2 linked regions of the Homo sapiens genome follow. The protein of the gene in region 1 purifies or fractionates together with the protein of each later gene. This does not show direct contact. Each region holds a gene or a part of one and is shown in the gene's direction. Other genes may lie near its edges.

What was found.
Region 2: the proteins of PSD (region 1) and GNAQ purify together in Homo sapiens (affinity purification with western blotting, with the first as the bait; one study listed by BioGRID). This does not show direct contact.

The regions. Positions count from the first base shown.
Region 1 is NC_000010.11:102,415,772-102,420,190, reverse strand, and holds the start of PSD (PH and SEC7 domain-containing protein 1), read left to right. Parts: upstream 1-1,405; 5' UTR 1,406-1,490; intron 1,491-3,069; 5' UTR 3,070-3,152; coding exon 3,153-3,806; intron 3,807-4,071; coding exon 4,072-4,174; intron 4,175-4,419. UniProt on the Homo sapiens protein: Guanine nucleotide exchange factor for ARF6. Induces cytoskeletal remodeling.
Region 2 is NC_000009.12:78,025,000-78,028,811, reverse strand, and holds part of GNAQ (guanine nucleotide-binding protein G(q) subunit alpha), read left to right. Parts: intron 1-3,812.

The DNA.
Region 1 (4,419 bases):
ACTGCACCGCTGACGGTCTGGCGCTCCGGTGCAACCGCTTCAGCTGGCTCATCACAACGAAAACCACTTCTCATCTGTTATCTCGTCAAGGCTTCGGGCACCTCTGAAAGGTGGGCAGGTCTATGCTATCAGTCCATTTTAAAGATGGGGAAACCGAGGCCCTGGAGAGGAAGCCCCTTGTCCAGAATCAAGCCAGACGGGAATAGAGAACCCAGACATCTGGTTTTCCCAGAATTCCTTCCACGTTTCCCCACCCCGCAAGGCAGCGAGAAGGGAGAAGCTAGCAGCGGGGAGAGACAAGAAAGGGGTCAAGTTAGGTGAGGGCTTGCTATCTCTTCTTCCTCAGCCTGCTTAGGGAGGGGGTAGCTGGGAGGACAGACCCCTGCAAAGATAGAGCCACGTGAGCGCGCACCACCTCCGGCCGCGCGCCTCGTCCCCCTCCCCTCTTTGTTCGCGCCTCTGCGCCTGCGCAGTGCGACAAATCTGGCGCTGTCCCCTTCAGCACCACGCGGAGTCCGCGCCGCCCCTCCCCGCGGTGAGCCCCGCGCGCCCCCGCCTCGCACGTCCTCGCGCCCCCTGACTGCCCGAACAGACCCCTTCTTCCTTCCGAGGTCACCATCTGCCCGCCCTGGCCCTCCCAAAGAGAGTAGTTGCCATAGTAACTCCAGCGGCTCTTTCTTAAAATAGCAGGGCCCCCTTCTACCCTGGCCAAGGGCACAAGGGTTGCCGGTCCCCCACGTCTTCCGGTCCCTAGTTCATCCCGTCTAACCTCTTACCCCTGGGCAGGCGTGACGACACCTAACTCAGGCAGCAAGGAAGTTCTTCCTGAAGTCTGATTTAACATCCCCCTGCTGCATCCTGGGAGGGTGGTCAGGGTTGGATCTCCTGGGTCCGAGACTCAAAACCCCTGGCGGGTTCAAGACGGTGTTCCCTAGATCTCCTTTCCATAGTTGATGGTCTCCTGGATTTAGGGGGCGGGTCCAGTCTACACCCATACCGTGTGCTTGGCGCGGCCGCGTGCTCGTGGGGGCGGGAGCGCGTGTGGCATGTAACAGGTCATGTGGCAGCCTCCTAGGGACACGCGTGGGGTCTGGAGCGGGACACGCGTGTGCAGCCGGGCCTTACGTGTGGCTCAAGGGGCGGTGGGCGAGAGAGACGTGGACACAAGTGGGGTGGGGCACGTGAGGGTCTGGGGAATAGAACCAGGGGTTCCATGCGCCCTCCTCCTTGTCTGGGGCGGGTCTTAGGTTGGCGGGAGAGCCCAGCGGGGACCTAGCGACAAGGGGGGCTGGCAGCCTCCGGGGCTCTGGGCCCTGGGAGAGGGCGGGGGGTGGGGGGGATTAGCGTTGCCTGAGCGGCGCGTAGGGGGTAGGGGGAGGGACTGAGAGGCGGGCGGGCCTGGAGCAAACGGGAGCCGCGCTGCCTTCACAGCTCAGCTGGGCCCAGCCTCTCCTCTGTCTCTCCTCGGTCTCAGCTCTGGGCGAGCAGCGGTGAGTACTGAGGTGGCATTGAGTTGGGGCTGCACCGGGTATGCGCTGGGACCCCGTTGAGCTTCCGGAACCTGCCTGGCAGGGTTGCTACTCCTGACCTCTGCCCCTCCCCTGCATTGCCACCAGAGGCCCCTTTACCTGGTTATGGTCTCTCCTGGGCGGGATCTGTCTTACCCCTGGGGAGAGAGGGAGAGGAGAGGAATATGGGTGCAGATTCCCCTCAAGAGACCCCAGTAGGTGGGGGGGAGGGGACGGTGTGTGTCCCTGCTTGAGTGTGTACATCTGTATGTGTACATCTGTATGTGTATGTGACTGTGAGCAGTAGGTCTCTGTGAGTGTCTGATACACCTGGACCTCTGTGTGCACTGGAGAATGACAGCTTGTGTATATATTTGGGTACCTCTTTGTGTGTTCCTGTTTGATGATGGTGTGTGTGTAAAACAAGCATGTGCCTTTTCATTACACACATACTTGTTATGACTGTGAGAGTGCATGAGGGTGTGTCTTTGAGCAGTGTGTGTGTGTGTGTGTCTGTGTGTGTGCCAGAGGGTGTTGCCTATGAATGTGTTTAACTGTGTACTGACATATTTGTCCTTATGTATGTGTGTGCGTGTGTGTGTGTGTGTGTGTGTGTGTGTGTTTGTGTGTGTGTAGGTGCCTGTCTGTACCTGTATGAAGAAAAGAATGTCCCTGGCCGGGTGCGGTGGCTCACGCCTGTAATCCCAACACTTTGGGAGGCCAAAGTGGGTGGATCCCCTGAGGTCAGGAGTTTGAAACTAGCCTGGACAACATGGTGAAACTCCATCTCTACTAAAAATACAAAAATTAGCCAGGCATAGTGCTGAGCGCCTGTAATCCAAGCTATTCAGGAGTCTGAGGCAGGAGAATCACTTGAACTTGGGAGGCGGAGGTTGCAGTGAGCTGAGATAGCGCCATTCCACTCCAGCCTGGGCAGCAGGGGCGAAACTCCATCTCAAAAAAAAAAAAAAAAAAGAAGAATGTCCCTTTCCCACTCAGTATGTATATATTGGGGGTAGGAGCCTCTGCTCAGGCTTTTCTCCCCACTTCCATGCTGTGCCTCTCAGCCCTTCAGCATCCCTATATAACACCTGTTCCTCTTCCCTCTCCTTCCAGGAGGCCTGAGTTTCCCTTCCCTGAGTGAGGGGCCTCCATAAGAGAGACTATAGGGGTCACAGGGCTGTATGATGGTGACAGCTGGCTGACACCCCTTTTCCAGAGGGTGGGGTACCAACTTCCCCTATTCTAGAAGTAGCTCCAAAGTGCCATAAGAACTCCGGGCTCACTCAACTTTGAAGTTGCTTCCTCTCTCCTCCCAGGGTGATGCTCAGGGCCTCAGGCAGAAGGAAAGGAGCCAGGGGCCCACTGGGTGTATAAGTCTTTTCTCGTCAGGCCTCTATGGAAGTAGTCCCCAGGCGTGGGATCAATGATCCCATATTACCAGGGTGTGCTAGGTCCCTGATACTCAGAGGCCCTAGCCAACTTTCCCTTCCCTATCTCTGCTGTCCTATCCATCTAACTCCTTGGCAGTTCACCCCATGCTCCCCTTCCTCTCTTACAGGCCTGTCTGAAGAGCATGCAGCCCCCTTACTCCCCGCCTGGCCTCGCCATCCCTGCCCCCCCAGCCTGACCCCCGGCCCCAGCATGGCCCAGGGTGCCATGCGCTTCTGCTCGGAAGGCGACTGTGCCATCTCCCCACCACGATGCCCACGCCGCTGGCTCCCCGAAGGCCCGGTGCCCCAGAGCCCCCCAGCCAGCATGTATGGCAGCACAGGCTCCTTGCTACGGCGAGTGGCAGGTCCAGGTCCTCGAGGCCGGGAACTGGGACGTGTGACAGCACCCTGTACACCTCTGCGTGGCCCCCCCTCACCCCGTGTTGCTCCCTCACCCTGGGCACCCTCTTCACCCACTGGGCAGCCCCCACCCGGGGCCCAGAGCTCTGTGGTCATCTTCCGCTTTGTGGAGAAGGCCAGTGTGAGGCCACTGAATGGGCTACCTGCTCCAGGGGGCTTGAGTCGGAGCTGGGATCTGGGTGGGGTTTCTCCTCCCAGGCCCACCCCAGCCCTTGGGCCTGGCTCCAACCGGAAGTTACGGCTGGAAGCATCCACATCAGACCCACTCCCCGCCAGAGGAGGCTCGGCCCTACCTGGCAGCCGGAACCTTGTACATGGGCCGCCAGCCCCACCCCAGGTTGGAGCAGATGGCCTTTACTCCTCTCTCCCCAATGGGCTGGGGGGCCCCCCTGAGCGCCTGGCCACACTCTTCGGAGGACCTGCTGACACTGGATTCCTGAACCAGGTATGCAACTTCCCCTGGGCTCCCTGGGCCCCCAGTGAAGGGGCAAGGCTCAGCCTCCTGTCAGACATGGGCTTGTCTGCTGTTCACTCTGAATCCTTTAATCTGTTCTAAATCTGCCTCTCTCTTGCCCTCTGTGTTTGTCTCTGTGTCTCTGAACCTCCATCTCTGTCGATGCATGTTTTAATTTCTGTTTCTGTCCCATATTCTTGTGTCCTTGTATGTCTGGCTTTATCTCTGGGTGCCTGTGTCTCCCTCGTTGGCTCAGGGGGATACCTGGTCCTCCCCCCGGGAAGTCTCCTCTCATGCCCAGAGAATCGCTAGAGCCAAATGGGAATTCTTCTATGGCTCCTTGGACCCCCCCAGCTCAGGTAAGGCCTGGGACTGAGGCAGGGAGAACAGGGCAGGGCCTTCCCCACAGCAGCTGAGGCTCAGTAGGGAGCCCTCCTTCAAACTTCCCCCAATCCTTGGAATTGGCTCTTGAGTCAGCCAATGTCTCCCCAGGCCTCAATCTTTCCATCTGCGCTATGATGGGAGGCTGGAGGATAGGACTGGGCAGGGCACCTGGAGGAAGCTGAGTAATGGAGGGAGGGGACAGAAGGATATTGAGGGGCAT
Region 2 (3,812 bases), on another chromosome or scaffold:
GAATCCAGGACGGTTGATTTCAACAAGGAAGATATTAGGGAGGGATTTCATTTGAGGAATTCCTGATTCGCTGCTTTGATGAGTACACTGAATGTTCTGGTTCCTTCTATCATTTAAACAAACCTATCTAGAGGAGATTATAAGATGTATCCATTCACAGTTTAAAGATCTACTAATATTTTTAACTAGTTTATGGAGGAATAAGTATTTTGAAATGAAAATCAATGTAAAATTGTTTTCAAAGTAAATTTTAGTTCAAGGCTTGATACCATTTTAATGGAAGAGGATTTGTTTGACAGGGATAAAAGTGGGTACCCTTGCATTTGCTCATGTAATTATTTACTTTTGTGTATTAATAATATGGAGACATTTAAAAAGACAATTAGTGGGTACCTGACTAGATGAAAGTATGGCAGTAAAATTTGGGCTATGTTGATTTATATTCGGCAACTATGCCAGTCTTCCAAATTTATTCCGTATGCTTATATATTATATATTTTTATTTTAACTTTAGAAACGTGAACCCTGAAATCTACCACTATAAGAATATTACATTAAATTTTGAATTATTTTCTTGTTGTCTTTTAACTTATTCATTCTTTGAATTCATTTATGTTAGTGTTTGACACTCAAAACTTACTCTTTGTATTCTATGTAGATATACAAGAGCATACTTCATTTTAACTTGGTTAATGTTTTTATATATTTTGTAGGTATAAAGCACATATTTTCTTTAATTGATTAATTTTCATGAATATTCACTAAATATTTCTGTTGGTGGTACATAGATAACCTCATTTAATATAATTTGTAAGTCTGTGTAATACAAGTGGCCTTGAGTGCCTGCTTCATGTTACATATAGTTATCCTGAAATTTTTTTCAGTTCCTAGAAGAAACATTTTTTTCCTGTTAACCTGTTCTTATTTTACACGTTTTTGAAGTCTTTTACTCTTTAGATCTTAATTATCAAATAGGAAGACTTAGTAAACCCCTTTAATTGATTGAATTATCGCTATTGAAACAGGCAAAGTTTAGGCCAGTCTTTTTTTTTTTTTTTTTGAGATGGAGTTTTGCTCTTGTTGCCCAAGCTGGAGTGCAATGGCGCGACCTCACTTCACTGCAACCTCCGCCTCCCAGGTACAAGCGATTCTCCTGTCTCAGCCTCCCAGGTAGCTTGGATTACAGGCATGCACCACCACGCCCGGCTATTTTTTTTGCATTTAGTAGAGCTGGGGTTTCAACATGTTAGTCAGGCTGGTCGCGACAGGCCAGTCTTAAATGGAAGACCTTAAATGGTCTTGGTCTTCTGAAATGAATTTTATATATGAGCACAGATTTTCTTCCTGTTGTACACTGCAAACATATGAGAGTAGAGGTTGTGTCTGTTTTGCTCACTATTAAATCCCAGCTTCAAGCACAGTATCTAACTCGTAGAATGCTCTCAATAAATATTGGCTGAGTAAATGAATTTATTTATTACCCTCCTGCTGGAAATTAGACCAGACAATAATGAATAAATGTATAGAAACATAGGAATATATAATGTTTTTATCTGTGGCAGATAAAATCAGGATCTTAAAAAAATTGTGTGTAACTCTTTGAGCCAACTGATTATAAATGCATTCCAGGATAGGAAGTGTTAATGTAAGATGTTGCATCACACATTGAACCAGTGTATTACAGTTCTGTACTGGATGTATTTGAGAATGGTAACAGTCATGCTTAAAGTATGAAAGTTTAAAGAAAAGAAAAACCATTCTATATTTTTATTACTTTTTATTGTGTAGAGGCTAGTTTAACCCTCTCATCTTTTTACCATACATTTTTCTCCATGGTACAGGGCTCAGTGAATTTTTAATACTCTGTAGAGCACAGGTGATGACTAAATGGGTGTTTGTGATTGACTTATACAATAACGTGAGGAAAACCACCATAATTAAATACAGAATTTCAGGAATTGCAGTTAGAACATTTTTAATATGAAGGATATGCATTTGTACTGAAAGCTATACAGTTTTAGACCAAGAAGGGGCTTGGAAGGCTGGAAGTGCTGTAGCCAATTTAAGCTGTATGGGAAGTTAATTTCTACACATCTGGAAAAGAGCACGCTTCCCACTGCTCCTCAGTAGGGTTCACTGGAGTGGGTATGTTGATTGCCTGAATTAACCTAGAGGTCAGTGCCATCTAGGATGGTGACTCAGAACCATTGAGTGAAAGCCTTGGTCTAAGTAACCTCAATAACAGCAGCTCCCTAAAAATAGCAAAATATGGTGTTTATGAGACTGCTTTAAGGACCAACAGGTTTTATTTTTTGCTACTCTTTTAGCTTCCAAGTGTTGAATATGTTTCTGAATGTCAGGATTTATTTGGATACAGTTCCCTTTTTTGTTGTTGTTGAAACAAAGTACTTATAGTTTATATCAGAAGAACAAAGTGGGAACATCCCTCATAAAAATCAAAACTGTGGCTCTGACTGTATAACAAAGCCTTCGGAATAAGTTTTTTGCATTGAACTACGTAGATTCATCGTCTGGATCTCCATATAATGTCCCATCCTTACCCCTATATGCTATTTCTTCATATGGCAAATCTGACACAAATTAAAACCCTGCTGAACAGTGAAAATATTGCAGGTTTATCTATTCACATATTCTAAAGTAAGTTTAGAAAGGAGAACCAGAAGACTAATTTAGTAGCCATTTTAATATAAATAAATTTGATAGAATCTTTTTCATTAAAAAAGAAAACCATCTCAGCTCTACTTTAGGAGAAATGGCTTATGTTCAGTTTTCAGAAGTGCCTATTAAAAACAGTTACGATTTTTATTACCCATGAATTTTTTAGGACCTGAAACAGCCTTTGCAGTTGTGAGGCTGCGTGCTATGCTAAACTTAGCAGAAAAAAGGAACAGATTTTTCTTTATGATCCAGGCACACTTACACTTGAAAAGAAATTAACAAGATTCTCTAAGGAAGGTTTTGATTCCAGCATTCATATTAATTTTTCTTTAAGGGGAGTTATTCTACTAATATTCTGTTAATATTAGTAGAAATGTTGATTGGATGTTGTAGAGGGAAAATAGGGAGCTCAAAGGGTACATCTTGGAAGAGACAGAAGCCATTTTATAAGGAGGTTAGGATTGCTTTCTCCCTCAGAAGGTGGAGGGAATCTGTTTCCTCTGTATTGGGTTGAGGAAAATACAAGTTTGTGAAGCAACAAATTTTAAAGTCAAATTTCCTGGTTGGAACGGGAGGCAGTCACATTTTTCAAAGGAAAACTTTTGTAATGCCTTTTAAGTTATGTTAAGATCTCTGCAGACTTAATCCTAGTGAAGTGTGAAATAGCAATAGAAGGTAAAATGTGCGATTGTTGGTAATTAAATCTGTGGCAATAACTGACTACAGTAAACCGTGAACGTTTACTCTTGTTCTGCCGAATGGAGTAACATTAAAGAAAGAGCTGCTCTCAGACCCAAACACTATTTTGTGTGAATAGCTGTTACTGATAAAATTATAGGAAGTTGTTCAACAATCACCTTTGATTTGTTACATTACCGATATGTAAAAAATAAAATTATAGGAAGTTGTTCAACAATCACCTTTGATTTGTTACATTACCGATATGTAAAAATCTGTCTGATTTCTCATCTAACATGTAGTAAAAGGACCTAGGCATACTGATGAAATGAGTTAACACATCCTAGGTGGTCATGAATTTGGGCTTTAAAAACAAAAATAAATGTCCATGTTGCAGTGCCGAGAATCCCAAATTGGATTAACTATACAGCTCTGTTGTTAACCTTTATACATAG